Regions from separate parts of the Homo sapiens genome. Here region 1 is linked to region 2. The links come from fine-mapping of genetic effects on plasma protein levels. A gene starts in region 2. The other region holds a variant in brackets. All regions are shown on one strand. Distances are between the middles of the regions.

Region 1 (16,819 bases), 28 kb before region 2:
GAAAAAGCTAGTTAGCCTAGTGCCTAGTGTAACCCTGAACCACTGAACTATAATTTAAGTAGCTTTGTCTGTGACTGGATCCTGTGACCACATTCTTGCTTTGTGGTCCACTTTGGTAACTGGATCTCCCCTGTTTTTGTCAGCATGAGTGTGTATCCTAATCATCTGGTTAGCCCTCTAGCTCTTTCAGAACAGGCACTCTTCTCTGCCTGGCCAGCCATTTGCAGGGGCCAGGCCTTTAGGTCTGTGGCTCAAAACCAGAAAACTATGATTGCAAGGCCTTTGATACTAATGCTGGCATCTTATCGACATCTCCCTACTGTCCGTTTCTGGCCTCCGTGGTGCTGCAATCACTGTGCTAGTCAGGACACCCTTGTTATCTTCTCCCATACCCCTCTAATGCTAACCATTTGTCTGACTGCTACCTTGGCTGGACCTTGGCTTGAACTCTACAGTTGAATCTACAGCAGAGGTTGTAAATTGGTGGGCTGAAAGTTCAATCTGACTGCTAGATATGTTTTGTTTGCCCTACTACTGTTTTCTAAAAACTAGACTTTATTTTAAAAACAGTTTTAGGTTCTCAGCCTAAGAGAGTAGAAAGTACAGAGTTCCCATATACTCTCTGTCTCCTCCGGCAACTAGTATCCCCCACTATTAACATCCTGCAACTAAGTGGTACTTTGTTACAACTGATAAACCTACATGACATATCATTATCACTCAAACTCCATAGTTTACATTAGGGTTCACCCTTGGTGTCGGATATTCTATAGGGTTTAACAAATGTAAAATGTCATATACCCACCATTATAGTACTATACACAATAGTTTCACTACCCTAAAAATCCTCTATGCTTTGTATATTCATCCTTCTCTCCCCACTAGCCTCTGGCAACCACTAATCTTTTGTCTCCATAGTTTTGCCTTTTCCAGAATATCATACAGTTGTAATTACACAGTATGCAGCCTTTTCAGATTGACTTCTTTTACTTAGTAATATGCAACTAAAGTTCCTCTGTGTCTTTTTATGCCTTGATAGCTAATTTCTTTTTAGGGCTGAATGATATTCCATTGTCTCGATGTACCAGAGTTTATTTATCCATTTATCTACTAAAGGATGTCTTCCAAGTTTGGGAAATTATGAATAAAGCTGCTATAAATATCTGTGTGCAGGTTTTGGTGTAAATGCCCTGCTATTTTTATCAGTTCTCAATACTTAAATATTAGAAGACTTCACAAAAACAGACAGATGTCCAGGGGGTTCTGAAAATTCAGAGGTTCTGGTAACACTGGGTCCACATTCCTGCAAGGCAAACCACCTGGAACTGAGAGGTGAGTGCCTTAAAGTGCTCATAGACTCTTGGCTTCACCTAGCCTACTGCAATTTCTGTTACCTGCTTGGCTCCTGTAGGCCTTTAGTCTTGCTACCTCTGAACTATACTTCTGAACTGAACTTCTATTTTTCTGTCCTGCAGGTGAGCATTACTTCAATGGACTATGTCTCAATCCAGGTTTCAGTCACTCCTGGTGTGTTCTATTCTTCCACAGAAAATTGTTCCTTTCTGGATATATCAATAGAAAGAAACCTGTCTGTTTCCTTACCATCATTTCTGAGAACTTAGAAGTCCTTTGCCCTCTCTCCTCCACTAAATCAAACCTCACCTGTTTTTCAAGTATCAGCTTAAGGTCTACCTTCCCTACTCTGGCCCTTGTTAATCCTCTCATCTCCACACCTCCTATGACATTCCTAATCAAGCCCATAGTTCAATACCATCTTATATTGTTGGCGATTTCATATTTGTTAGTCTAGTCTTCTTAAAAGCTTACTGGAGATTCTTTAGGATTTGATCACATTAGTTGTCCTTCTGTTCATTTTCCTTGGACCCATCTTGTAGTCATGTTCCATTCTTTTTTTTTTAAATTTTTTATTTTTTTATTTTTGAGACGGAGTTTCGCTCTTGTTGCCCAAGCTGGAGTGCAATGGTGCGATCTCCGCTCACTGCAACCTCTGCCTCTTGGGTTCAGGTGATTCTCCTGCCTCAGCCTCCCGAGTAGCTGGGATTACAGGTGTGCACCATCACACCTGGCTAATTTTTGTACTTTTAGTAGAAATGGGGTTTCACCATGTTAGCCAGGGTGGTCTCGAACTCCTGACCTCAGGTGATCTGCCCATCTCAGCCTCCCAAAGTGCTGGGATTACAGGCGTGAGCCACCACACCCGGCTGTCATGTTCCATTCTTGAAGGAACATGACTACAAGCACCCAAACTATTCTAGAATGGTTCCATACAAGGTTTTGTTTCCAACAGCCTCCTTGAAGGCACCCTCACACTCTTTTGACTACAGCAGTGAAATACTTTTGGGTAGAAAGATTCTTGGAAACCCGCATAGTCTGAGATAACCTGTCTGTGTTAACTTGTTCCACGTGAAGGAAGCCAGGTCAAGAGCAACTATGGACAAGCACCTGCACATAAGCCAAAAGGGAACTCTCAGAACTCAACATGCTCTTTGGAAATCCCAGGCTCAGTTCCGCCCTGAATATTGTAGAGTAGTGCCATCCAATAGAACTTTCTGCAATGATGAAATGTTCTATATCTGTGCTGTCCAATACAGAAAATGTTTTCTATTTGTTCTGCCCAATACAGACACTCGAAATACAGACTGTGTGACAGGAATTCAATTTTTTAACTTTGATTACATTTAAATCTAAATATCCACATGTGGCTAGTGGCTTCTGTATTTGACAATGCAGCAAGGGTCATGGAAAGCAAAAGGGCTGGGTGTATGAGGAACAAGAGCATTTCTTCAGCTAAGGGGACTGAGGTGCTTCCTTCACTCTTATCACTGGGAGGGATCTTTCTGCATTGAAGAAGAGCTTTGGGAGGGCTTCCAGAGTCCAGAACTATGACCTGAAGCTAAGGAGGGCAACTTCAGTCAGCATCATAACTTCTATTTTGCAAAATGACTGAGGAATGGTTGTTTAGGCTGCTTGGAATCCTCAAATGGCAGAAACCATCTAGTAATTCTACTCCTCAACATACATTTGGGGTAAATAAAACACAGGATATCAAAACATCCTACCCAAGGCCACATGAAATTGAATATTCTGCTCAAGAAGTTATCACATATATTAAAACAGGTTACCGATTTCAAAGCATTAGAATACAGAAAATATGTTTAACACTAAAACTAAGATGAATATAATTTAATCCTTGCAACTGAAGACATTTTGTCACTTTTCAGTGCCTGAGGGTTATAGTGAACAGCTGGTTGAGGAGACTAAGTTGCATTTGTTGTCATACAAAACCCAGCTGTTGCTTTTTTGAATAAATCCTTCATATTAACTTTTAACTTGTCATTTGTGGCCTTATAACAAAATACATAAGAAGAATATATAAAATCTCAGTTATTAAAGCTTGCTGGTTGTTTAAATCCTAGATAAAGGGGTGTTTACCTTAATAATGGCCTTTAGGCTAGGCATGGTGGCTTATGCCGTAATCCTAGCATTTTGGGAGGCTGAGGTGGTAAGACTGCTCGAGGACAGGAGTTCGAGACCAGCCTCAGCAACACAGCAAGACCCCATCTCTACAAAAAATTAAAAAATTAGCTGGGTGTGGTGCTGCATGCCTGTAGTCTCAGCTACTCTGGAGGCTGAGGTGGGAGGATTGCTTGAGCCCAGGAGTTTGAGGCTGCAGTGAGCTGTAGCACCGTAGTACTACAGCCCAGGCAACCTGTCTCTGAAAAAAAAAAAAAAAAAAAAAGGCCTTTGGGCTGGTGGTGCACACCTGTAATCCCAGCACTTTGGGAGGCCAAGGCAGGCAGATTGCTTGAGCTCAGGAGTTTGAGACCAGCCTGGGCAACATGGCAAAACCTTGTCTACAAAAAATACAAAAATTAGCTGGGTATGGTGGAATATGCCTGTAGTCACAGCTACTTGGGAGGCTGAGGCAGGAAGATCACCTGAGCCCGGGGAGGTTGAGGCTGCAGTGAGCCCAGATTGCACCACTGCACTCTAGCCTGGGCAACAGAGTGAGATCCTGTCTCAGAAAAAAATAAAGACCTTTAATATACAAAGTTAATGCTGCAATCACCATTATTAGGCCTGATTATCTGAGAGTGGTGATAGGTTTGAGATAATCCAGTTATTTTCTCTCATTTCTACCATTTCTTCCTATACAAGGTTTATATTATTTGCTTGGTTATAGGATCATTTGTTTGAACATATGGCTAAGCATTCCAATCAACATAGCCAACTAATTATATCTAGCTGTCTTTCAACAGAGTTCAGGAAAGGACAGATTTCACCTCATTATATATTACCTGGAAAGACCTGGTGACTAATTTTTGATCTCTGAAAATGAAAATCTCAATGCATGATCAGATGATTCTCCCACAGTAATCTAGCACAGAAGGTACTTTTTGGTTAAGGTGATGGATACTCTAATGCACTGCTTTTCAAGCTATCCGTGGAGAAGCACTGGCCTTGTTTTCCTTTTCTTGTTTTCAATCCATTGTGGACTAACAATTTTATAAAATACAATAACAAGGAGATGAAAACAAAAAAGAGTCATACAAACTACAAGGCCTAATTTATTATTACTATTATATTCAACGGTTGTAAAGTTATTCTGTCAAATTGCTATAAATGATCCTAACTGCTTACTCTCAATTCCTGTGCTGTTTGGACCGGTGACAATCTGCATGCAGCCTGGCACCAGCCTGAGGACTGGACTTTGAACAGCACCACCTTAATGTACCGAGTTAGGAGGCCAGCAGGTCTTATTTTCCAGTTGGACCCTGCTGGTGGAAGCAGGATCTGGTCAAAACATGGTGCAATGAAGACGCTGGCTGAAAAGAGGAAAGTGACCTCTAGTTGCTCTCACTGCTCATTAGCACAAGACACTCCTACTGGACCCAAGATAGTTTACAAATGCCATGGCAATGGCCCAGAAGTTACCTTTTATAGTTCTGGAAATTCCCCACCCTTTTTCCAAAAAGTTCTGAATAACCTGCCTCTTAATTAGCATATAATTTAAAGTACATGTAAATATAGTTGCTAACAGCCCATACACTACCCTCTGGGCACATAGCCTATCAGTTAGCCCTGCAGCACTGGTTCAATCAAAGTTGCTTTTTCTTTTTTTTTTTTTTTAATATTTAACAGCTTTACTGAGATATAATTATAATAAAAACCCTGCATATATTTAATGTATACATTTTGATGGGTTTGAATACATGCATACATCTGTGGAACCATTACCACAATCAGTGTAATAAACATCCATCACCTCCAAGTTTCCTCCTGCCCATTTGGCAAGATAAAATAAGATCCAGAGATCTGCTGTACCACATCGTGCCTATAGTTCATAATACTTTATTGTATGCTTAAAATGCTCTTAAGAAGGTAGATCTCAAGTTAAGTGTTCTTACTACCCCCCGCCCCCCCACCACACAAAGTTGCTTTTTCTTATCCTTGGCTCACTCTTAAATTCTTGCCTGGGCAAAGCCAAGAACCCTCCTTGGCTAAGCCCCTCAGGGCAGCCTGCATCAGTATCACCTCTGTCACAAAACTTCATGCTTGATGGTTCTGAAGGGAAAACAGATAGCTACCTGTATTAGAGAGTTTGATAGTCTCATATATGAAGGATAGTCTCATATTTGAAGGATAGTTTGATAGTCTCACATTTGAAGGAAGCAAGACAGGGTAATTTCTTGAAGGTGTTTCCAGTTTGCTGATTCCTGACCTGGGTCATTTGGGTTCATACCTGCTCATGGTTTCTGTGCTCATACTGGGCCAGTGCATCTTGAGTTCCTTACTTGACCATGGTCCTCTCCTGAACTGCCAACTTTTGATGTTTAGGAATAACTTCCTCTTCTTAACATTTGGCTTCAATGGAATGGAGCAGGAAACACTTAACTCAGGTGAAGATTTAAGAAAGATGTCCTAATAGGCTCTTTGCCCTGGGAGGAAGACTTTCATTTTATACAATATCTGCCAGGATTTTAAATCTGAAAATACCATCTCCAGTTATCACTAGACTGTAGCTTTGGTCCATGACTCAGCTAAATACTGACTAACTCTTAAGTACTTGAAGTGTTTCATTATACATGTATCACTGTATAAATAATGAGGTAACTCATTTAATATTCTTTGTCACAATATCTTAACAAATATTTCTCCCTAGCTCAATATAAGTTTGTTTGGGCCATCAATCTTACTTCATAAGAGTTTGAATTTTAGTTTGTTATAGGTAGCAAGAGGTAAATAAATCTTGCTGAGAAAGCCATAGAAAATTTTTACCTGTTTTTCTTTTGCTCCTTCTGTTCATTTTTATCTTGATAAATTTCATGGTTTTGGTTTCTACTTAGAACTTGTCATCTTTAAAAAACTGCTATAAAGCAAGTTTGGCTAATTTGCTTAATAAAAATGTATCTCACAATGGATAAAATATGATTAATGGACAGATAATAACTTCTTTTACAAAAATATATGATTTTCTTTTTAAGAAGTCTGAGAATATTATGCAATTTGCTTAAGCTTTTAAATAATTCCATGTCTAAAGGTTCCAAGTTATCTAACCAAAGTTACCCTGGATAGGTTTTAGCTGCAGTCATGTTTTTTGATCCTCTGCTAGGCAGACACACAGGCTAAAATCCACTGTGGTGCTAAGCATTAGGTGACTAAATCAGGGGCATGGTAGATGTATAGAACTTTCAAAATTGTACAGATGCTAACATAAACCATCACACACAAATGGTACCTTTGCTTTAATCAACCTCCTAACTGGAACATTTCCCAAAATACAGCCCCCTGCTTCTATTCCTCTCCTATCCACTCATATGGTTTTAGGATTCATTTCCCACGTTCAGTTCCATAACTCAAATATTTCTCTTTGTCATTTCTTTCTTTGCCTCAAATTCAACAGACCTAAAATAAAATCAATTTCATAATCTTAGGGTTGGAAGAGATCCCAGGGGACATCCAATCTTGACTTTAATGGCTACATAAATAGCTTCCATAAAACATCCAAGAGAGGGGTTCTCTAATCTCTCCTTTAATGTCTCCAGCTCTAGGAACTCCCCTCTTCCCAGCGAAGCCATTTTGGGTGCATAGCTTCCAACGCCAATTCTATGTCCAAGTTTTCCTACACAGGAAATTATATCATCCTCTTTCCAGTTCCCAGGTCCTCTTAATTAAGTCAGCACCATCTGATTACTCTCCAAACGCTCCATAGCTAATCAGGTATGAGATGGGTCAGGCCTAAGTTTTTAATCAGCCACCTCTCACAGACCCATAATTCCTGGAACATAATTAATTGCTGATTAATTACACTGATATTTTAAATCTATCAAGAGCTCAATCTTAGCAAAAGAGGGTTTCTTGCTTTGAATCTGATGCTTCACGTGATGTTTTTGACCAAATAGCCATGTGAAAATTATGTTAATCATAGGTTAGAAATAAAATTACAGTTTACTAGCAGATGGAGTGATAATTGTATAGTTTATACATCATTTAAAACTCCTGTGGAGAGAAAAGTGCTGACTGCAATGAAAAATGACATTTCGAGAATTTTTGGTAAAATCTACATAGTTCACAGGAGAAAGCTCATTCTTTTAAGTTCCTTGTATTTTTCTTGCCCTTTAATAATGTGCAGACACAGGCTGGCTTTCCCTAAAAATCAAAGAAACACAATCATCTACCTTTCCTGTTATACTAATGCTATAATGCTAGCGCCTTAAAATTTCATGAAAAATGAAAAGTGAAAACTTTTGGCAGCCCATTTATTTTCAAATTATTTCGGTAGCATGGATAAAAATAGGAATACTGTATGTTACAATATCATATCTCTACATACATGAAAACAAAACTATGCCAAAAGCTCAGTTATATGTAGCTCATTAAGGCCCAGATTCTTTTCAGATCTAAGATACAGCATTAGAAGAAAATGACTTAGAGATGAGTAAATCACCGGTTATTACAAGAAGTTTCCAAAAGCTGTGTTGCTGCGGTGAAACCTGCTAAAAACAAGGTGACTCATGCTGTTGTTTAGAAGCTGGATGACAGAAACCCATTGGAGTACGCTAATTTCCCTCACTTCTCACACCCCAGTTACAAACTCATTACATTCAGGGAATGCAGCATTAAGTTATTTGAGAACTGCTACTTCCCAGAGGATTCAATGAGGTAGAAATTAGTATAAAGGACAAGGGAGACTATTCTCTGTTATTTAGATCTTTAAAAACAATAAACTTCCACAAGAATTGAAAGCAGGTACTCAAGTAGATGTATATGCATGTTAGTAGCACTGCTATTCATAACAGCCAAAAGGTGGAAACAGCCCAAGTGTCCATCAATCCATTCATTGATGAATAAAAAAATTGTGGTATATCCATACAATGGAATATTATTCAACCACAAAAAGGAAGGAAATACTGATATATGCTACAATGTTGTACCTCAAAAACAGTATGCTAAGTGAAAGAAGCCAGGTACAAAATGTCACATAATATATATTCCATTTATATGAAATGTCCCGAATAGATAAATCCATAGAGATAGAATGAAGACTGGTGGTTCCCAGGGCTTTAAAGGGAAGACAGAATGAGGAGGAACTGCTTAAGGGGTAAGGGATTTTGTTTTGGAATGATGGTAAAGTTCTGGAACAAGACAGAAGTGGTGGTTGAATGTATTAAATGCCACTCTATGTATTACATGCCACTGAACTGTTCACTCTAAAATGGTTGAAAAAATTAAAAACAATGAACTCCAGTCTTAAAACCAGATTCTTACCTCTAGAGTCCTCTCCACTATACTTTGTACTTACCTTACACACCATGGACGTCATTGCTCCAAGCCGAGCAGCTTGGACACACTGGTTGGCACCTTTCCCTCCAAAGCCAATAAAAAACTTATGTCCATGGATGGTTTCTCCAGTTTTTGGCAAACGAGAAGTAAGA[C/G]TATTGTAATTTAAAAAGAGAAGAAAAAAGCATATTGGTAACTGTAATCAATTTAAGTTCTTTAGAAGAGAGGGAAGGCTATATGGTAGAGCTCTAAATAGTCTTAACAATTAGAACTATAAGCAGAAGCAACGAAGATTATCTCTTCCTTTAGGATGACATTTAGTAGTTTGCATCATTATCAAGAATGAGTCTCCTTGACAGAATTCCTCTCTCTCTCCTAGAGACCACTACTGTGGCTAGTGTTGTACTGCATCAGGGTTATTCATGAATACTTTTCCTTCATATTCTCTTTCTTAATGCCAGCACAGAACTTTATTCACAGTGGGATTTAATAAATGGGATGAAATTAATGTATATTTCTATATGGGTTTATCTGGTCACTTTAACAAGAAGCAGGAAGTGTTAAACCAAGAAGCAGGAAGTGTTAAACCAGACCAGGATTCTGATAATCAAGTACAGGACCTAAGGAGAAGAGGGAAGTTACAATTCCAGGTGCTAAAGAATCTTTTTTGTTTACTAAGGGGTAGAGTAAGAGTGGGGTGTTCAGAGAGCAGGATCAGGTTTTAGTCTTAGTCCATCCTGCATACCACATCATTTCACGTGCTCACTCAAAAAGGGTGTCTATTTTAAAAAAGGAACACTAAAGAGCTAAGTTATTTTTAAATTTTTATTATGGAAGATTACAAACCTATAAAAGTAGAGAAAACAGCATACTGGCTTCCCTTTCCCTCATTCACCTATCATCCAGATTTAATAATTTAATACTTATTGTTTCATAGCCAATCTTGTTTGAGTCAATACCTTCATCAGCTTCTCTAAGAGGTAAGAATTTTTACCATAATGCTATTATTGCCTAATGATGATAGTATTAAGTGAGGCAAAAAGAATAAAAGGTTTGATCCAGGGTAAGATTTTTATATTTCATATTATTAAAGATGGAAGGTGTGAGGAAATAAAATATTTGAAGGATGGAAGGAAATGATTGACTTTAAAATGAAAGAGGCATTCTGGGGAGTTCTAGGGCAAGTGAAGAAGATGGGCTCAGGTGGCACGAACACTGGCTAGCTGGCCACAGAGAAGTGGGCCAAGGGCCAGAGGGAGCAGATAAAAAGAGGGTAGGTGTGACCAAAAAAGGTTAACTAGCTTTAGATAGGAAAGAAAGGTAAAGAGGTAAGTTCACAATGGTAAGGCCACTGAGAACCTACACTGCTTTTACAGGTTAGAAATTTATATTAATTTTCCACATAGGTTGTGATCTATCTGAAGTCAGTATCTTATATTAGAACAGAGCAATGACAAGTCCTAACAGCCAGTTTGCAACGGGATGACATATAACTGATGCTAAGAACACACGATTGCTTCAATAAAGACCAAGCTCAACCTGTTAACCTCCTTTATATAGCTCTAAAAGTGTCAATAAATTGAGCTGAACTACTCCATTCCCTTGCAGTACACTGTCAAATATGGTTGAGATTCAAAAGAGCCTCATCAATAATTTGAAAACATCCCACTCCTCCCCTTTAAATTCTATTTTTATCTTGGATTCTAAATGCATTTATAGTACTGATGAAAAAAAATATACATCTAGAAGGTTCACTTCTGAAAAAGGTACTCAATCAAGAGAAAAATGGTTTTAATGTAATGTTATTATCCTGTCATTTAATTTAGCAATGACAAGTGATGATGAGATTTTGATTTGCATTAGAAATCTTAAACATCTTAGGATTCTGTTATGAACAGGCAATGATGAGTAATCTGTGTGATTGAGTAACTATGTGAATTCTTGGCTTACTGATGCTGCTACAAACAACACTCAGAGCAACCTGAAAAAGAAAAAATATACCATGTGGCTAAAAACAGGCCAAATAACTTGATTAGTAAGACTGTCACTAAAGAAACTTATGATTTCCACTACATCTATACTTAGATCTGGGTTACAATTCACTGGTTTGAATCAAGTGTAATTTTTATTACTAACTGTGAGAATTCATTTAAAAATCACCAGATTATTACTGGGATGTATATATATATGTGGGGGAAGGGCAAAATCATGGGTACAGTAGGTGTGTTTGATGTGGGAGCAGATGGCTGGGATTTAAACTCATTTCTAAACAACTTCTATTAACACAAGCATTGTATTAATTCAGTGATCACTGAAATTCTTCACTCTTTTGGTATTTTACTAATTTCTCCTCTTTTTCTTCTGCATCCTTCCCCTACTCTTGTCTCTTTCTTCCCTTAACTGTAGACTTTCCCTGCATGAGGACAGGGACCAAGTCTGTCATGTTCTCCATTTTATGCAATGTGTCTGTCACTTGACACGAGGTTAACAGATATTTGCTGATTGAACAGATTTTTGTAAGAGTCTCCCTTTGTCTCTGTCTCTGTCTCTCTTTCTCTCTTTTTTTTTTTAAACAGAGTCTCTCTCTGTCACCAAGGCTGGAGTACAGTGGCACGATCTCGGCTCACTGCAACCTCCACCTCCTTGATTCAAGTGATTCTCCTGCCTCAGCCTCCCAAGTAGCTGGGATTACAGGGGTGCGCCACCAGGCAAGGCTAATTTTTGTATTTTTGGTAGAGAGGGGGTTTCATCATGTTGGCCAGGCTGGTCTCGAACTTTTGGCCTTAAGTGATCCGCCTGCCTTAGCCTCCCAAAGTGCTGGGGTTACAGGCATGAGCCACCGCGCCCAGCCTCCCTTTGTCTCTTTTCTGTGTCTCCCCCGTATAGCATCTATTCCTGTTCTGAAATGAGGATGTGGAGGTGTTGATTAGGGAAGCAGGGGGAGACTGGCAGGGATGACTGGGCAACTGTCCGACAATAACAACTCCATATTTTACCAGATCTTGCCCACTGCACTCCCAGTATCAGCAGCATTCCTCTTCCACAAGCAAGAACTGTAACTAGAAGTCATATATTCCTTCATTCATGCACTAATTCAACAAATGTTCATCACTGTGTCCTGATGTATCTCCTACAAGGCAAAATCAACTTGTTGACAATGGCATTAAACCTAACCCTGATGCAAGTAATACACGAGTGAAGAAAATAATTCACGGAATAAGGAGATTAGTATGTTCCATTTCTTTTTGGGGGGGGGGTGGAGTCTCACTTTGTCTCCCAGGCTGGAATGCAGTGGTGTTATCTCGGCTCACTGTTACCTCTGCCTCCTGGGTTCAAATGATTCCCCTGCCTCAGCCTCCCGAGTAGCTGAAATTACAGGCATGCACCACCATGCCCAGCTAATTTTTTTTGTATTTTTAGTAGAGATAGGGTTTCATTTTATTGTCCAAGCTGGTCTTGAACTCCTGATCCCCCTGCTTCAGCCTCCCAAAGAGCTGGGATTACAGGTGTGATCCATGGCGCCTGGCCTGATTTTTTTTTTTTTTTTTTTTTTGAGACAGAGTCTGCTCAGTTGCTGAGGCTGGAGTGGAACACAAAAATGGCTCACTGGAGCCTCAACTTCCTGGGCTCAGATGATCCTCCCACCTTAGCCTCCCAGAGAGCTGGGACCACAGGTGCACACCACCACTCCTGGTTAATTTTTTGTATTTTTTTATAGAGACGGGGTTTTGCCATGTTGCTCAGGCTGGTCTCAAACTTTTGGACTCAGGCGATCCTCCTGCCTCGGCCTCCCAAAGTGTAGGGATTGCATGCGTGAGCCACCGTGCCTGGCTGATTTATGTTATTTAAAAGGAAAAAGATATAGGTATATGTTCTCCCATGATATGTACATGCATAAAAAGTGAAAAGTTAAATGACAGGTATTCACAAAGAAAGGTGGGGACTAAAAGTTTGTGTGTTATTTTATATTCTTATGCACATAAATACATACGACAAGAATATTTTAGTGTATTATACGATACCACTTGTCACTACATCAGATTCACGTGGCCTCTGCCTCATTTACTAGCCACCAGTTCTTGGTGGGCACCAGCTGGCTTCTCGCAGGTGTCACCTAACAGAGCCTTACTGAATGCTGCTCTCATTCCACCCCTGGGCTTCTGTCTCTTCAGACTGTCCTGAAGGACTGAGCAGCCAGTGGTCAACTTGCAAATGTCAAATACCTTTGTATACGCTCTTCCTTCTTCCCTGTCCCCTGCTCTTGACTCGGGGGTTATAGTGCTAACTGACTATGTGCACTTAAGCCTCTGTCTTAGGCTCTGGTTTCTGTTAAACCCAGACTAAGACAGTTTATGGCGGATTTAATTTTTTATAAAGTAAATAAACTGAAGAGTGGAGAGAGCAACTAGGAAGTTAGTTACAAACAGGCAGAAGCATTTCTGAATTATAAATCCTAATTTAATTTGAATGAGACTTTCCTATCTTTCTTCCTTATTGAAATCATGAAATTATGTTCAGGTTCAAGAAAGCATCTGCACAAAGCACCGTCTCCTGGGATGAAAGCATTACTATGATTTGTTCTAATTAAAAAAAAAAAGAGGTTTAACAGAGTGTCAAAGACAGAAAAATTAAATTGCTCAAATTAAAAAGAAAAGGAAACAGTATTAGTAGAAATACATTGTTACTACCATTTAAAGGTAAAAATAGTGTAAATTTCTGAATGAGGGAGAAAACCTGAACAGAGAAAACCATGCCTAAGAAATATATTTGAATTTAAAACAAATTCATAGCTTTTAAAATGCCACAATGTCTTCAGGTTGGACTGAAAGGAACAGTGATAAATGTTCATACATGGCCCCAGTCTTCCCTGCCATGAGAGGCCACGTGGTTAGAGCCTGGGTGTGCCAGGCAGGAGGCCTGAGCCACTTACTGATTGTATTACTTTTGACAGCTTTTCCCTCTTTGAACCAGCTTCTTCTCTTGCAAAACAGGTTTAATAATACTTGTCAACTCCTTAAATGCCTGGGTTTTGTGCTCTGAGTTAATTCACTGACAGGTGTTACCAGAACAACTTATCAATTGCTTTTAACTTCTTGACAATGATGTGGTTTTTACAGATTCTCAGAGATTATTCGAACCAAAGGAAGGAATGACCCGGTAATAGGGGGATGAAAAGTCTTTCAACCAAAGAGGTCATGCTAATATTGGCTTCAGCCAAAAGTCACCAAATGTGTTGCTTTTTGGCTTTTGCACTGATCTTTTCTCCTTTTGGCTGCAAGCTTCTGACAACAGAAGCCTCTATAACAGGAGATTGTACTATTAATTATTACCCAATTAAAATTCATTACACTAATTTATTATTCTTACTGCCTGTATTCTTCAACCATATTTATTCTTCTCAGCATTTGTATATGCCACATTTAAAAGGCTGAGAGTAATTTCAAAATCAAGTGAGTGACATCTATTTCTACCTCTGTAAAAAAATCTCCCAACTAAAAATTCATTCTATGTTCCCTAACCCTTCATTTGCAGACGTATATGTTATTTATTTAAGGTAATGAAACATAAATTATGCTTTATGCAGTTTTTAACTGATTTTGATTACTAACCCATATCTTTTTTTTTTAAGAGACAGGGTCTTGCTCTGTTGCCCAGGCTGGAGTGCAGTGGTACAACCACAGCTCACTGTAACCTCGAACTCCTGGGCTCAAGCAATCCTCCTGCCTTGGCCTTCTGATTAGCTAGGACTACGGGGGCACACAACCATGCCCAACTAATTTTTTTTTTGTAGAAATGGGGTCTCGCTATGTTGCCCAGGCTACTCTTGAACTCCTGGCCTCAAGCAATCCTCCCACCTTGGCCTCCCAAAGCACTGATATTACAGGCGTGAAACTCATATCTTTTCCTAGCTAAAATGTCTGCGACTAAAATGTCATTTTGTCTGAAGATGCAGCTACTCTGGAATTTGTAGAGTGGACAAACAACACTCTAGCCAGAAGTGACCAGCCTTTCACAATGTCATATCCTTGAGCCCTATTTATTTAAAACTTACTTATGTGTGAAAAAGTGTACCAGGCAATGAGAGAGACAATAAAGATTAGTACATATGGTCTTCTCCCATGTTACAGTCTTACAGGGCTGACTTCATTCACATCTCTGCTCAAATGTTACCTCTTTAGAGAGGACTTCCCAGACCACCTTATAGGAGACACTCCCTTCTTAATATAATTTTTAAGTATTGACTCATTCATTCTGAGAAAAAAAAAAACCAGGTTTTTGAATCAGAGACAGCATTTAAATACTTATACTTTAGTTCTCCAGTCCCCCACAAGGTTACATGATAAGAATAACTCCCTAATAGTAAATTTTGGAGCCTATATAGGACATTTCACACACAGCTGCTGCTCCTTCTCCCCTCTGGGGTGGGGGAAGAAGCAGCATGCATCACCTGCACATGACCTACTGACCTTTGCTTTGTAAACAAATCCTCTCAGGGAGAGAAGGGGAGGGTCTCTAGGTTTACAACCTTCAGAAGGAAAACAAATTATCTTGGGGAGAAGTCTCTGAATCTCTCCACAGGTCTTTAACTTCCAAGGCTTGTTTGCCATTCAAACATTCTTTAGGCCGGGCGCGACGGCTCACGCCTGTAATCCCAGCACTTTGGGAGGCTGAGGTGGGCAGATCACGAGGTCAGGAGATCAAGACCATCCTGGCTAACACGGTGAAACCTCATCTCTACTAAAAATACAAAAAATTAGCCAGGCGTGGTGGCAGGCACCTGTAGTCCCAGTTACTCGGGAGGCTGAGGCAGGAGAATGGCGTGAACCCAGGAGGCGGAGGTTGCAGTGAGCCGAGATCGCGCCACTGAACTGCAGCCTGGGCGACAGAGCGAGACTCCTTCTCAAACAAACAAACAAACAAACAAACAAAATTCTTTAATCCGGTGCCAGAAATCTTTGCTCAGAAAGTCCTGATCATGCAGAAACATGAAAACATTCATGAAGCATTGCTTCCCAACAATTTTCTTCATAGCAATATCACTACATGACATTACAATACTCATTTCCTTCTTTTCCTGCTTTCTTTTGGATTAACTGTATTCCATTTTACGTTCCCTGTTTGTGTGTTATATTCTACCTTCCCTTCTCCTCCTCCTTTTTTTTTTTTTTTTTTTTTTGGTAGAGACAAATCTCAGTAAGTTGCCCAGGGCTGGTCTTGAACTCCTGGCCTAAAGTGAGCCTCCTACCTTGGCCTCTCAAAGTGTTGGGATTACAGGCATAAGTCACCATGCCTGGCTGATTTTTTCCCCTAGTATTTTAAAAGTGGTTGATCTAGGGTTTACAATATGCATCTTAAACTGATCACACTTTATTTTCAAACAGTACCATACCACTTTACTTAAAAATGTAATCTACTTTACATATTCTTCCATTTCCCCTTCCTAACCTTTGTGCTATTGTCATACATTTTACTTCCACATGATGTAAACGTCACAATACTGTTATTACTTTATTAATTTTAAATGTCAATTGCCTTTTAAAGAAATTGAGAAGTGAAGAAAAAGTCTTTGTATTTACCCATATATTTACCATTTCTGGGGGTCTTCATTCCTTTGGGTGGATCTGGGTTTCCATCTGGAATCATTTTGGTTCCACCTAAAGGAACTTCCTTTAACATTTATTATAGTGTGAGTTTTCTGGTGATAAATTCTTTTATTTTCCTAAAAAGTCTTTAGGAAGTCTTTATCTTTCCCCTTTATATTGGAAAGATATAGAATTCCATGTTGACAGTTTAGTTTTCAAGCACTTTAAAGATTTTATTTTCTTCTGACTTGCATCTTGTTTCTGACAGGAAGTCTGCAATCAATCTTTGTTCCTCTATATGTAATGTGTACCTTTTTTTTCTTAACCTCTGGATGCTTTTAAGAGTCTCTGTTTATAACTGATTTGCAGGAATTTGATCACAATGTGCTCTGATGTAGTTTATATCATGCTCATCCTGCTGGATGTTCATTGTT
Region 2 (15,849 bases):
CCGCAATAAACATAAGTGTGCATGTGTCTTTATAGCAGCATGATTTATAGTCCTTTGGATATATACCCAGTAATGGGATGGCTGGGTCAAATGGTATTTCTAGTTCTAGATCCCTGAGGAATCGCCACACTGACTTCCACAATGGTTGAACTAGTTTACAGTCCCACCAACAGTGTAAAAGTGTTTCTATTTCTCCACATCCTCTCCAGCACCTGTTGTTTCCTGACTTTTTAATGATTGCCATTCTAACTGGTGTGAGATGGTATCTCATTATGGTTTTGATTTGCATTTCTCTGATGGCCAGTGATGATGAGCATTTTTTCATGTGTCTTTTGGCTGCATAAATGTCTTCTTTTGAGAAGTGTCTGTTCATATCCTTTGCCCACTTTTTGATGGGGTTGTTCTGGCTGTCATTCTTGTACTTTGAGCCCTTCACTGGTTTCCAGGGCCTAAAGAATAAAACCTAAGCACCTCAGCATGGCTGATTAGGCCTTTCATCACCACTGTATATCCTGATGTTCTAAGACCCAAGGGTTGCTGCCTCAGCAGATACCATGCAAGCCATATGTGCCTCAGCACATACCACACAAGCACATCCATGATTTTGCTTCTGTGTGTAACCCCAAGTGGTGGAATGTCTTCCTTCCCCTTTTTTTCTGGGTTACCACCTGCTTATTTTTGAAAATTTGGCTCGGGGGCATCTCTTCTAGGAAGTTTTCCCTGTTCTCTCGCATAACCTGCAGGCACTTACCATGTCATACTATAATAATCTCTTTTTGAGTCTGCCTTCTTCTCTGGACTGTAAATTCCCCAAGAGCAGTGCTATGGTTCAAATGTTTGTTCCCTCCTAAACTCCTGTTGAAATTTAATTGCCAGTGAAATGGCACTGGGAGGTGAGACTTTTAAGTGGAGTTTAGGTCATGAGAGCTCTGTTCTCATGAATGGATTAATGCCATTATCATGGGAGTGGGTTTGTTATCAAGGGAGTGAGTTCCTAATAAAAGGACAAGTTTAGCCCCCTTTTACCTCTCTCTCTTCCCCTCAACCTGCTTTATTCTTCTACCATGGAATGATATAGCAATCTCACCAGATGCCCTTGATCTTGGACTCTCCATTGTGGAGAGAACCACGAGCCAACACATTTCTGTTCGTTGCAAATTATCCAGTCTTAAAGGGGATATTACCACTGACCCCACAGAAATACAAATAACCATCAGAGAATATTATAAACACCTCTATGCACACAAACTAGAAAAGTCAGAAGAAATGGATAAATTCCTGGACACATACACCCTCCCAAGACAGAACCAGGAAGAAACTGAATCCTTGAACAGACCAACAATGAGCTCCGAAACTGAATCAGTAATAAATAGCCTACCAACTAAAAAATAGGCCAGGAGCAGATGAATTCACAGCCAAATTCTATCAGATGTACAAAGAAGAGCTAGTACCATTCCTACTGAAACTATTCCAAAAAACTGAGGAGGAGGGACTCCTCCCTAACTCATTCTATGAGGCCAGCATCATCTTGATACCAAAACCTGGCAAAAGAAAAAAAGAAAATTGAATCCAGCAGCACATCAAAAAGCGAATCCACCATGATCAAGTAGACTTTTCCCTGGGATGCAAGGTTGGTTTGACATATGCAAATCAGTAACTGTGATTCATCACATAAACAGAACTAAAGGCAAAAGCCACACGATTATCTCAATAGTTGTAGAAAAGGCTTTCCATAAAATGAACACTGCTTCATGTTAAAAACTCTCAATAAACTAGGTATTGAAGGACCATATCTCAAAATAATAAGAACCATCTATGACAAACCCACAGCCAACATCATACTGAATGGGAAAAAGCTGGAAGCATTTCCTTTGAAAACCAGCACAAGACGAGGATGCCTCCTCTCACCACTCCTATTCAATATAGTATTGGAAGTCCTTGCCAGAGTAACCAGGCAAGAGAAAGAAATAAAAGGCATCCAAGTAGGAAGAGAGGAAGTCAAACTATCCCTATTTGCATGATTCTATACCTAGGAAACCCCATAATCTTGGCCCAAAAGCTCCTTAAGCTGATAAACAACTTCAGCAAAGTCTCAGGATACAAAATCAAGATACAAAAAATCACCAGCATTCCTATACACCAAGAGTCAAGCCAAAGCCTAATTAAGAACATAATCCCATCCACAATTACCACATACACAAAATAAAATACCTAGAAATACAGCTATCCAGGGAGATGAAAAATCTCTACAATGAAAACTACAAAATATTGATTGAAGAAATCAGAGATGACACAAACAAATAGAAAAAACATTCCATGCTCATGGACAGGAAGAATCAATATCATTAAAATGGCCATATTGCCCAAAGCAATTTACAGATTCAATGCTATTCTTATTAAGCTACCATGACATTCATCACAGAACTAGAAAAAAGTATTTTAAAATTCAAATGGGGCTGCACACGATGGCTCACACCTGTAATCCCAGCACTTTGGGAGGCTGAGGTGGGTGGGTTGCTTCAGCCCAGGAGTTCGAGACTAGCCTGAGCAACATGGCAAAACCCCATCTCTGCAAACCAACCAACCAACAAACAAACAAACAAACAAACAAAAAAACAGAAATTAGCTGGGCATGCTGGTGTGTGCCTGCGGTTCCAGCTATTTGGGAGGTTAATGTCGGGGGATTGCTGGAGCCTGGAAGTTGAGGCTGCAGTAAGCCACTTTCACACTGCTGCACTCCAGCCTGGGGGAAAGAGCAAGATCCTGTCTCAAGAAAAATAAGGCCAGGCACAGTGGCTCACCTCTGTAATCCCAGCACTTTGGGAGGTTGAGACTGGCAAATCACCCGAGGTCAGGAGATTGAGACCAGCCTGGTCAACATGGCGAAACCCCGTCTCTACTAAAAATACAAAAATTAGCCAGCCGTAGTGGTGTGGGCCTGTAGTCCCAGTTACTCGGGAGGCTGAGGCAGGAGAATTGCTTGAATCTGGGAGGCAGAGGCTGCAGTGAGCCAAGATTGTGCCACTACACTCCAGCCTGGGTGACAGAGTGAGACTCTGTCTCAAAATAAATAAATAAATAAAATAAAATAAAATAAAAATTCATATGGAACCAAAAAAGAGCCTGAATAGCCAAGGCAATCCTAAGGAAAAAGAAAGCTGGAGGCATCACACTACCTGACTTCAAACTATACTTCAGGGCTACAGTAACCAAAACAGCATGGTACTGGTACAAAAACAGACATATAAACCAATGGAACAGAATAAAGAGCCCCCAAAATAAGGCCACATACCTACAACCATCTGATCTTTGACAAAACAGATAAAAACAAGCAATGGAGAAAGGACTCCCTATTCAACAGATAGTGCTGGAATAACTGGCTAGGCACGTGCAGAAGACTGAAACTGGACCCCTTTCTTACACCATATACAAAAATCGACTGAAGATGAATTAAAGACAAATGTAAAACCTAAAACTATAAAAACCCTGGAAGACAACCTAGGCAATACCACTCTGGACATAGCACAGGCAAAAATTTCATGGCAAAATGCCAAAAGCAATTGCAACAAAAGCAAAAATTGACAAATGAGATCTAATTAAACTAAAGAAAACTAAAAGCTTCTGTACAGTAAAAGAAACTATTGAGTAAACAGACAACCTACAGAATGGGAGAAAATTTTTGCAAACTATGCATCTGACAAAGGTCTAATATTCAGCACCTAAAAGGAACTTAAACAAATCTACAAGAAAAAAAAACAACCCCATTAAAAAGTGGGCAAAGAACATGAACAAACACTTTTCTAAAGAAGACATACATTTTATTTTATTTGCAATAAGCATATCAAAAAAAGCTCAACATCACTGATCATTAGCGAAATACAAATCAAAACCACAATGAGATACCATCTCATACCAGTCAGAATGACTATTACTAAACAGTCAAAAATTAACAGATGCTGGCAAGGCTGCGGAGAAAAAGGAATGCTTATACACTGTTGGTGGGAGTGTAAATTAGTTCAACCATTGTGGAAATCAGGGTTGCAATTCCTTCAGAAGCTAAAAACAGAATTACCATTTGACCCAGCAATCCCATTACTGGGTATATACTCACAGGAATATAAATCATTCTGTAACAAAGACACATGCATGTGTATGTTCATTACAGCACTATTCACAATAGCAAAGACATGGAATCAACCTAAATGCCCATCAATGGTAGACTGGATAAAGAAAATGTGGTACATATACACTATGGAATACTACACAGTTGTTAAAAAGAACGACATCATGTACTTTGCCAGAACATGATGGAGCTGGAGGCCATTATCCTTAGCACACTAACACAGGTACAGAAAGCTAAATACTGCATGTTCTTACTTATAAGTGGGAGCTAAATGATGAGAACACCTGGACACACAGAAGTGAACAACACACACTGGGGTCTACCTGAGGGTGGAGGGTGAAAGGAGGGAAGAGGATCAGGAAAAATAACTAATGAGAACTAGGCTTAATACCTGGGTGACAAAAAAAAAATAATAATGCCTGGGTACAACAAACCCGTGTGACATGAGTTTACCTATATAACAAACCTGCACATGTACCTCTGAACTTAAAATAAAAGTGAAAAAAGATAAATCACCCAGTCTTAGGTATTCTGTTATGGCAGCACAAAAGGGACTAAGACAAGACAAGCAGTAACCATGTTTTCCTAACTGCAGTATTCTTTTTTTTTTTTTTTTTGAGACGGAGTCTCGCTCTGTCACCCAGGCTGGAGTGCAGTGGCACGATCTCAGCTCACTGCAAGCTCCGCCTCCCTGGTTCACACCATTCTCCTGCCTCAGCCTCCCGAGTAGCTGGGACTACAGGCGTCTGCCACCACGCCCAGCTAGTTGTTTGCATTTTTAGTAGAGATGGGGTTTCACCGTATTAGCCAGGATGGTCTCGATCTCCTGACCTCGTGATCTGCCCGCCTCGGCCTCCCAAAGTGCTGGGATTACAGGCGTGAGACACCACGCCCAGCCTCCTAACTGCAGTATTCTTAGTGTTTAGCACACTATAAGTATTTCAGCATTATAAACAAGTCATCAAAATACTAGAGCAAAACTCATCACAAAGTCCACCTTACTTTGTTCTCCTTAGGTTACAGACATGAAAAGCCTAAGGCACAGAGAGCTGGCAAAGGAATGGATTGCTAAAGGGACTGCTTTGTAATAGTACACAGTAGGTGCTCTTTCTTTGTCATATGCAATTTTTTTTTTTTTTAAGAGACAGAGTCTCATCACCCTGTTACCTAGGCTGGTCTTAAACTCCTGGGTTCAAACAATCCTCCCACATCGGCCTCCCAAAGTGCTGGGATTACAGGCATGAGCCACTGCACCCAGCCATAATTTTTTAATGTATATTTTCATTAAAGGGACATACCAAATTTCCCATGAATGATTACTTTTGATATTAGGGAATACAGTTGACACAACTATGTTTAACAAAATACTAATTTAATAAATGATTGGTAACTGATAAGCAACTTTTCAGACCAATTTAAGAAGCAGAAAGAATAATGAAGGATATTATATTCCTCGAATACTGGGAAAGCATGATACTTTTTGGATCAATATTCCTTTTTTAGTTTTTGAAAATGTGACTGTAAAAGAGATTTCTCTGTTCTAAATATGACAAGCCAAGAGGCTTCTTGACTCTGTAACCTGTGTCCCAGTTACAAAGTACTCTATTATGTCAAACAAATACAAACTTTGATAGGTACAGTATAACTCTCTTTTATTTTTTTATGTTTAACAGGGTCTCACTCTGTTGTCCAGGCTGAAGTACAGTGTACAATCGAGGCTCACTGTAGCCTCAACCTCTGGGTCTCCAGCGATCCTCCCACCTCAGCCCCCCAGTAGCTGGGACTACAGGCTCACACCACTACGCCCAGCTAATTTGTGTATTTTTTGCGGAGACCGGGTTTTGCCATGTTGCCCAGGCTAGTCTTAACTCCTGAGCTCAAGCGATCCACCCGCTTGGCTTCCCAAAGTGCTGGGATTATAGGCTTGAGCCACCACTATGCCTGGCCATAACTTTTTTTTTTTAAGTAATCTAGGTCCAATGCTTCATCCGCTTTGGATCTAAAAGCTTCTAAATTCACTTATTCCACTATCCAATTAAACCTTTTGAAAATTAGGCACTCATTTCCTGATTTGGCAGGATTAAGCTTAGATGCTTGGGTGAACACGAGTCTTATCTCTCAAGCCATCACTTTTAATTGGCAGCATGTAAAAAGATAACACAGAGTTTTAGTTGACATCAGAGTCTATTGCTATGGAAATATAAACATAGGTTTGTATTAAGCACGTCTCAAAGCAAGTTTTAGGACTGCAGAGAGACTTGAAGAGAGACAGGAAGTCAATTTTATTAAAAATTTATCCTTTAAATGTTGTAGTGCCCTAGGAGGTCAGACCCTCAGTGATCTCATCCAGCCTCATGGCTTTAAATACCATTGATACACTGATGACTCTGAAATTTATATCTCCGGGTTGGACCTCTCCTTTGAGATCCAAACTCTTGTATCTATTTTCTTCACCTCCTCAATTTGATATCTAGTAGGTACCTCAACCCTCCCAATTCCACTCTGTGCTCCTGATACAGCCCTCTCCCACCCAACTTTCTCTGCATACAATCTTCTGCGTTTTCATAGAGGTCAACTTCCACTAATCCTGTCAACTCTACCCCAAAAATATAATAGAAAGATGCTTTCTCTCCACTTCACTGCTTTCAAGCTACCATCATTTCTTGCCTAGATTGTTGGGATTGACTCTGAATTTGTGTCCCTGCTTCTGTATTTGCCTTCCCCTTCATGCTATTTATTCTCATATAGCCCTTGGAGAGATCCTATTATAATCAAAATAAGATTATGTCACTCCCCTGCTCAAATCCTCCACTAGCTTTTCATCTCATCCAAAGTATGACTCAATGTCCTTTAATCACTGATTGCTGTCTCCTGACTCTTTTTTTCTTCTTCATCCATACTGGACTCCATGTTCTTCACTGAATACGGCCTTTGAGTACACTATTCCTTCTGCCTGGAATGCTCTTCCCTCAGATTATGACTTGTTTTCTTTCCTCCTTTAGGTCTTTACTCTAAATAACCTTTTCAGTGAGGCTTTCTGAAGCCAGTAATCTAAACTTCCTATTCCCATCCCTCCTTACATGTTTAATTTTTCTCCTTAGCTTTTACCTAACTTACTATGTAATTAACTTATTTCTACTGATACTGTCTTACTAGAATGTAAACTTCATGAGGCAGGGATTTTTGTCTGTGTTTTCACTGCTGTATCCTCTGCACATCAGGAAGTGCCTGGCACATAGTATAAATTCAATAAATATTTCTTGAATGAATAATTAAAAAAATGGGTGATACAGGTCATAAAAAATAAGGTTTACTAATGAAAACATGATTAACAAAGGCCTATGAGCCTAACGTCTAAAAATATTCACACATTGTTGTTTTGTTGTGGAAATCTGTCTTTGGAAAATCTTTGACTTTATATCCCATAAGACCAGGGTTGATTCCTTGTATCTTTGTAATGTGTAACTTTAGAGATGAGTGTTCAAGAAGGAAGAGGATGATGAGAAAAATATAAGTGAGTATTAAATAATTTCAATTGTTTGCCATGCTGTATGAGCTAATGATTTTTAAAAATTATTACTACATACGACTTACTATTCATAGCTGACTGAAATTAGAAATGAAAAAAAAGGTTATTCATTGATTGAATTAGCAGTGTCTGGCACACAGTAATGTAATATATAAAGTAAGTTGGGCTTGGATGCCATCTAAAAGGGCTTAGTTATTGAAGCAGTTTTATTTCTGAAGTGATACTAAAGAATAGGCATGCGTGTCCAGGCTAGTTACAGTTAAATTTAGGAATAAGGCACAGTAATAAAGATACTATCTTTAGACTTGAAAATTATAAATCCTTAGTTGTTATTCCTTATCAGTTTATAAAGTTAACAATGAATGTACAGACTACAAGCTATCAAATGTACTGTAGATGAAAAGGGCAATAAACACTAGTCAGAGTTAGAGGTAGAATGATATAATGGAAAGGTACGAATTGGGGCCAGGCACGGTGGCTCACGCCTGTAACCCCAGCACTTTGGGACACCAAGTAGGAGGATCGCTTGAGCCCAGGGGTTCAAGACCAGCCTGGGCAATATAGCGAGAGCCCATCTTTAACAAAATAAAAAATAGAAAATATATATTTAAAAAAATAAAAAAGAAAGGTTAAGGATTGGGAGACCTGGGTAGTAGCCTTTACTAGCCACTTACTAGCCAGTAAGTAACCACTTACTGGCTGTGTGATTTGGAGTAAGTCATTGAAGCTCTCTTCCTTATCTCACTTGTAAAATGTGAGGATAGAATGATAGGCTTCAAAGAGTCTCTGAGAACTAAATATTGTAGGATTTTTTACTTCAAGCTTAACCACTGTGGTAGCAAAAATAACATACTCTCTGCTCCCCTCTCCCAAAGTATGTCCACATCCAAATCCCCAGAATTTGTGAATATGTTGTTACGTGGCAAGGGGAAATTAAGGTTCCTAATAAGTCACCATAAAATAAAGAGATTATTCTGAATTATCTGGTTGTGCCTAATGTAATCACAAGAGTTCTTATAATGTAGAAGAGGGAGCCAGAAGACTGGGGATCAGAGTGATGTAATGTGAGAAAGACCTGAACAACCATTGCTGGCTCTGAAGATGGAGGAAGGGGCCACGATGAGCCAAGGATGTGGGCAGCCTCTGGAAGGTGGAAAAGGAAAGAAAACAGATCCTCCTCTAGAGTCTCCAGAATGGAGCCCAGCCCTGCTGACACCTTGATTTTAGCCCAGTGAGACCTGTATCAGACTTCTGACCTCCAGAACAGTAAAAAAATAAACTTGCGTTAATTATTAAATTTGGTAATTTGTTACAGCAGCAGTAGATAACTAATATAATCATGATACTAACTGTAACTAGAAAAGTTGCACCCAAGTTTATCACAGATGCAGGGTTTTAAATGAAAATCCTATACGCAGATTTTTGTAAAGATCTTCAGTGTCATAAGTAACGAGAGATCATGAAAAGTTTGTTGAAAAGCTGTGGGAATTAGCAGAGAGAGTCTATATGGGAATACAGTTTTTACTAATGATTTTTTACTGATGATTTTACTAATGATTTTGCTAATCATCAGTAAAATTTTTACTAGTGATTTTGCTAATCATCAGTAAAATTTTTACTAGTGATTTTGCTAATCATCAGTAAAATTTTTACTGATTCATGTGAAGAGAAGAAACTTGGATATTTTATGAAGGAAAGAATATGGCCAAGAGGAGAAATTCTTCTCTGGGCTTCAGTTTATTTATCTAAAAACTGAAGGACTAGAATAAATAATTTCCAAATTTTTCTAGCTCTGAAATAAGACTTTAAAACCCTGACGGATGCTAAAATGGGCCTTTGACACCACTCCCCTACCCCACCCCACAAAGTACTATAGTTATTTTTAGTATCTGATGGTCAAGCTTCACAGAAAGCTCTCAGTTTGGTAACAAGGAAGTAGCTCTGAATTTTAACCCTGACACTTTTATTCAGGTAGGATGTATGAGAAAATTTTCTTTTCTTTTCTTTTTTTTTTTGAGATGGAGTTTTGCTCTTGTCACCCAAGCTGGAGTGCAATGGCGCGATCTCAGCTCACTGCTACCTCCACCTCCCAGGTTCAAGCAATTCTCCTGCCTCAGCCTCCTGAGTAGCTGGAATCACAGGCGCCAGCTACCATGCCCAGCTAATTTTTGTATTTTTAGTAGAGATGGGGTTTCACCATGTTCGCTGGGCTGGTCTGAAACTCCTCACTCAGGTGATCTGCCCACCTTGGCCTCCCAAAGTGCTGGGATTACAGGTATGAGCCACTGCGCCCGGTCCACTTTAGTTTTCTTACTCTTCTGCCACTTCACACATAAAATCATGGTAAACATTTAGCTTGGTGGATTTCCCATGGAATGAATCATTTTAGATGAAGGTTTATTCCTTTATGTAACTCAACTTTATGAATTTTTGATGAAACTTTTTCTAAAGTGAAATACATGCTCTATTTTTATACAAAATTTAGTAAGTACCATATAACCTTTTCTTGAAAAGAGTCATCACCAGTAAAATCAATTGCTATATTGTGTTGTAAACACAGTAATGTTCTTTCTACACAGATGTCTGCAAACTATGGCCTGCAGGATGTTCTTGTAAGGCTTGGGAGGTAAGAATGGTTTTTACATTTAAAAAATGTTGTTAAAAAAAAATGTGACCTTGACCACATACGGCTTGCAAAGCCTAAAATATTTACTATCTGGCCCTTTACAGAAAAGTTTACTTACTCTTGCTCTAGAAAAAGATGTACAGGCCTCTTCAACAAATGTCTCCAACTAGATTCAATTTTATGCTCTGTCACCAAAGGAAAGTATTTTTATCTTGGCACAGTGTCTGACAGAATAGTTCTAATATTTGTGGAAAAATAAAGGTCATTGGTATTTAAAATTCTTTTGTTGCTTCTTCTCGTTACACAGTCTCCTACTCATCCTCAAGTTTTCGTCAGTCACTATAACTGCCTCTAGCAGTCTCTTCTCTAACTCCCACCTTTCTAATCTCAGTGGAAATTTGGTAACACAGCTTATAAATATTTTAAGGTAAGGTTAAATTGGTTACATGAAGACCCTAGACCTATTTTCTGAGTAGAATACAGGTGGTTTGGTGCAGCAATTTGGTGACTTATTTTGATTGTCCCAAAGCCTTTTTGTTTAGTTCCACGTTCTCTATTACCCTTTGGAAAAGCAACATTTCAGGACGAATGAGGTGTTACTGTAGCATACCTGATCATTTTTATAACACAAAGTAGCATTACAACTGAAAAGATATTCATCAAAAGACTGAACTGCAGTAATTGGAGTGGTAGGATTTTCTTGGAATATCTGAATTTATTACTAATTTTACAGTGAACATACATTACTTTTGTAATCAGAAAAGCTACCTTAATTTAAAAAAAAGAAAAATCAGAAGGATCTGTCTACTCAATCTTACTGACCTAACTCAACAATTTTCATTTGGCATATTTTCTATCATAATTTGATCATCGTTTTCAGAGGTTGTAAATACTGTGTTTATGTTTTTATTTTGATTCATACTTGGCTTGCTGAAAAATACGCTGTAAATATAAAATACTGCAGTAATGCCGACAATCAACATGGTGAAAGGTGACAGTCTTTTTGATTTCTGCTCAACTCATTATTTTATACAATAAGCTCAGACGAATAATACCCAATTTGGATAATGTTACGCTTGACAAAACACTTTACTTCATTTAGTCCTCACAACAACCCTGTGAGGTAGGCACATTCTCGGAGGTAAAATGACGTGGGCAAAGTTCCCTGGCTCGTTTGGGGAAAGGCTCAGCAGCCGGGCCAAGAAAGGTCTTTGGGGGCGCAAGTCTTTGGAGGGCAGGTCTTTGGGGAGCGCTTTGAGTAATATTAGAGCTTTCACTAAACCCTGGCCTATTACGTCCCCTCCCCTGAGATTTACCTTTATATACTCAAGTTCTTTCATGCCAGGAAGGTAGGCTGAAGGCTTCGAAAACCTGCAGCTCATACCCAAAGCTAGCACTGTCTATCCCTGGAGACCCAGCGCCCAAAAGCTCCACTGGGCGCATAGCGCACGGCACGCCTCCTCCCCCGAGCCGCAGACTGAGTAACTGGCCCCGGACTAACCTGACCAGGTCGGTCATGCAGGAGCCCACCACTACCACCGCCGCCACCTCCTCTTGCCACTGCCTCTGGGGTTCCCCAGACGCCGCCATCGCTCAAAGGTGCTGCTGTCCAACCTGGACGGTGACCTCTGCCCTTTGCCCGACCCCGTAACCAGAGACGCCACTCCTGCCCTCCCTAACGACGCGGGCCTTTCAGACGCCTACGCGGGTCGCCCACCTGACTGCCCGAAATCACCCCGCCCACCAAGTGTCCCCTCTTCTTCCTGGAATAGTCTCGGTGCACAGCCTCACGTAACAGGGCCCTCCTGATATGGCGAGACTCCGCGCTCCTCGTCACTCACGGGGCAGGCGCTGAGGAAGGAACTGTCAGGCACCGCGGGGACGCCTTTCCGAGCGCCCGGCTCGGCGCGGCGCGGGGGCGCGCACGCCGCCCAGCTTCGGGGCCGCAGAGGGGGCGGGGCGGGACGTCCGGGGAGTGCGCACGCATCCTGCCCGCGGCGCGCGCGCAGGTCGGTGCGTCTGTCGGGGGCGCGCTCGGGTACCTGTACCCCACGTAGTCGCCGGTTACCGATCGGACTAAGTTCCAGGTACCTGGACTGGGGCTGGTGCGGGGAGGTTGGATCCCGAGTCGCACAGGTGGCGTGGAGAACTGTGGTTTAAATATGGCCAGGGGACTCGCCTCCTCTTCCTATGGAGAAGGCCCCCGTTCCAAAGATGCCCTTCTCATCCCCATCACGCTGATTCCCTCAAGAACGAGCCCCCAAGGCCAGAGGCGTCTCTTTCTCCATATCTGGCCCATCCCCTGGTTCCTGTAAACCCCGAGTATTAGTTCCTTGTTGCCTGATGAGGGGAATCATACAGTTTGGAAGAGGGGAGAGTGTCCCTTTTTAAGACGTCCCCTAGAGTGGGGTGGTCATTCTTCGGGTCTGAGCTAACTTGTTTTTCTCGAATGTTGCCCCTTGGGGGAAATTGCTTCCCCAGTGTAACTTCCCTCGTGCGCTGTATGACGTCGACGTGACGCAGCAGGATGCCACCCCTTTCCGTTCCATGACGTCAGCAGGGCACATGTTTCCGTGTTTGTCATCTCATTTTAATTGCAAGAACCTGGATGGTGCTTTAGACGTCTTTGTAATCCCCAGGCCTCTCATCAAAGGACCTTTTGTAACTTTATTTTGGGGTAGCAGACCCTTGCAAAAATTGTAATTTTGCATTTTCCTTTTGCAATACGTCAAAATCAGGAAATACAAATTGCAGTAGTAGTATTCAGGGGACTCTGACCACCGTAAATATTTGTATATCTGGGGTGTATTATAGTGCTGCCATGCGTAAGAGTTACTACCGGTGGTGACTCCCTGTCCATGTACCCGGTTCACTGCACCAAAGGACCAGTGTTTTTGGCTAAGTGACTTCTGATTTTGGAGTCATTGTGTTCCACTCCCCACCCCCCGCCCTTTTTTTTTAGAGAAGTCACACCTCCTCATGGTTGAAATAGATTTTAATACTGCGTGAAACCTTGCACTGTTAAAACATAGTATTATGGCTGCCCTGGAAATAGAATTCATTCCCTCAGGTGTCATCCTAAAGTCACGACCGTTGCTGAATTAGAATGTATTGTTGTCACTTAGTATGGTTTGGCTTCTAGAGCAAGGCTGTTCCCTTTAACATTTGACTAGTGAATCACTCAGACCAGGTTCAGCAGTAGGTCAGCAATAGTCCAGTTTGTTTTTAGTGGTAAAGCAATCATTTGTTTAAATTTTTACTTTTTGTCTGTTCACATTTTATAAGATATACGCTTTACAAAATCACCTTGATGCTTTTCTCTTTGGTGATAGAAGTTATCAATGTTTATTTGAGAGAAAGATGGGTATAGTGGACTTGGAGAATCCGGATTTGGATTCTGATCCTCCAGCTTCCAACATTCAACAAGTTATTTTATTTTGCTGAGCTTTAATTTTCTATTTGTCAAGTTTCTTTAGCTTCCACTTGTCAAATGGGAACAATTATTGTTCTCAGGGAACAGAGTTGGGGAAATGTAAATGAAATTACAGATAGAGATGAGTAATATAATGCCTGATAATGGGTAGATAGGTGTCTAGAATGTGTTGGTTCTGTTTCCTTCTTTTGTAGAAGCAAGAGATAAAGTAATAATGGGTACTGTGGGGAAAAACACAGAAGAACAATTCGGTAATATAGGTGAGACCCTTTTGCTTTTTTATAAGATAGGTATATTTGTACTTAGCATATGACTTTGATAAGCATCCCTTCAAGAATTGTGACATAGACATGAAGGTGGAAATGTTGGCGAATAGAAAAAAATAGGCTTCAAAATTATGATGTGGATTAGTATACTGTTCAGAATCAAATTATAATAATTACCCATATTATCTGCAAACTGGGAATTAAAATTCCTTACTACCTCAGGCTTGTGAAGATCAACTGCAGTAATATATATGGACGCTCCTTGTAAGTGATAAAATGTTTAAAAAAGTACATGATTTTTATGATTGGTAGTACAGTGTTAGATGTTTAGTCTTACTTTGAAATGAGAGACTAGTCGGGGGGCGGTCATCTGTTAAGCGGTCAGAAGAAGAGCTTGTTTTATATTTACAAAAAGGATGATTTTAGAACTGAAGTATGAATATAAAGGTGTTAATCTCGAAGATACTTCTGGTTGTCATCACTATATAGGGTCAAAGTGTTCTTATTTTTTGAGCTATCAAATTAGCAAATAAATTTATTACTTACTATCTGAAATAATAAACTGAAACAGGTTTTAATTTTCAACATTTATTTTAGCAAGGACTTGTAAGTTTTCATGTGGTATAATGTATGAAAACTAGAACCAGAGCATCATTTACTGGTAACTTGCTGGAAATTAATTTTCTTTTGATGTGGCATTATTCTTTAAAATTGAGGAAGGAAACGATCATTTGAATCGACTTTTTCCTCTGAAGGAAGAGGCTTTCATTTAGAAATCTATTAAGAAGAATTCGTGTACTCCCTCCCCCAGCCCTATGAGTTTCCAGATAATTTAGATATGATGTATTGGTTCTACTTTTGTGGTTTTAAGTGTAAGGACTTAGTGCCTTAAAGTCAAATACCTTAAGATCCATGTTAGTCTGTGTTGCTTGATAGCTGCATAGATGTATGTTTTCATAATTTAATTGTCAAGTAGATTTTTGTTATATCTCTTCCTTGGATCTTGTTATATCTATTCCCCTACCAAATTCTGGGGAGGGGGCACATTATCTTCTCTCCATACTGAAATATTTCTCTAACTTTTGTCCCCTTACTCATTTATTTATTAAAAAATGTTTATTGAGTGTTTAGCATGTGCCAGGTATTTCTGTTAAACCCTGGGGATTCAAAACATAGACCCTGCAGGGAAGAGATCACGTAAGCAGGTAGTTATACTACACTGTGGACGGAAAGGTATTAAGAAAGGTGTATCAGCAGTAGGCCGGGTGCGGTGGCTCACGCCTGTAATCCCAGCACTTTGGGAGGCCATGGTGGGTGGATCATGACGTCAAGAGATTGAGACCATCCTGGCCAACCTGATGAAACCCCGTCTCTACTAAAAATACAAAAATTAGCTGGGCGTGGTGGCATGTGCCTGTAGTCCCAGCTACTCGGAAGGCTGAGGCAGGAGAATCACTTGAACCCGGGAGGTGGAGTTTGCAGTGAGCCGAGATTGCGCCACTGCACTCCAGCCTGGCAACAGAGTGAGACTCTGTCGCAAAAAAAAAAGAAAAAAAAAGAAAGATATATCAGCAGTAAATAATTTCTAGTAAGTAATAGCTTCAAGCAGGTCAGCCTGTTGTAGAGTTTTATACGGTATTATCCATCAAGTTTTTACTCCTTGTGGGGACACACAGGGAGAGATTGCTAACTCAGTGATGTGTGTGTTTTTGTGTTGGGATAGAGGATTGTTAGCGAGGGCTCCTTGGACTCAGCTAAGGTAGAACGAGTGAGATAGAGTGGGACCACTTTGAGTAGAGTGTGGCAGTGTAGAAATCAGCTTTGGGAAGGAAAAGGGAATTGTATTTCAGGAGTTCCTTCTGTTCCTGAAAA

Alleles and levels. Positions count from the first base shown, and alleles are read on the strand shown. Strength reflects both the effect of a copy and how common the allele is.
For the plasma level of the protein whose gene starts at base 11,910 in region 2, C is the high allele of the variant in region 1 and G is the other (strong association).

Evidence for each region. A credible set is the group of variants that fine-mapping cannot tell apart. PIP is the chance, under the fine-mapping model, that this variant and not a neighbour inherited with it causes the effect. The UK Biobank Pharma Proteomics Project read protein levels with antibody pairs (Olink). The fine-mapping took linkage between variants from a reference panel, not from the people measured, so its PIPs are less certain.
Region 1: its variant is the best candidate, but not a certain one, in a credible set for the plasma level of the RBKS protein (UK Biobank, PIP 0.67).

What each region holds. Positions count from the first base shown.
Region 1 is chr2:27,849,615-27,866,433 of GRCh38, forward strand. RBKS (ribokinase) reads right to left here. Exons shown (of 8, transcript NM_022128.3): 2 at 8,825-8,957. Among named protein-coding and RNA genes, the nearest start is that of RBKS, 32 kb to the right of the region's middle. The variant C/G (reference allele first, on the strand shown) is at 8,958.
Region 2 is chr2:27,878,478-27,894,326 of GRCh38, forward strand. RBKS (ribokinase) reads right to left here and starts at 11,910. Exons shown (of 8, transcript NM_022128.3): 1 at 11,780-11,910. The coding sequence starts at 11,868. It overlaps BABAM2 (BRISC and BRCA1 A complex member 2), which reads left to right and starts at 12,252. Exons shown (of 12, transcript NM_199191.3): 1 at 12,252-12,365. BABAM2-AS1 (BABAM2 antisense RNA 1) reads right to left here and starts at 12,637. Exons shown (of 1, transcript NR_028308.1): 1 at 10,979-12,637. RefSeq lists a silencer at 12,098-12,377.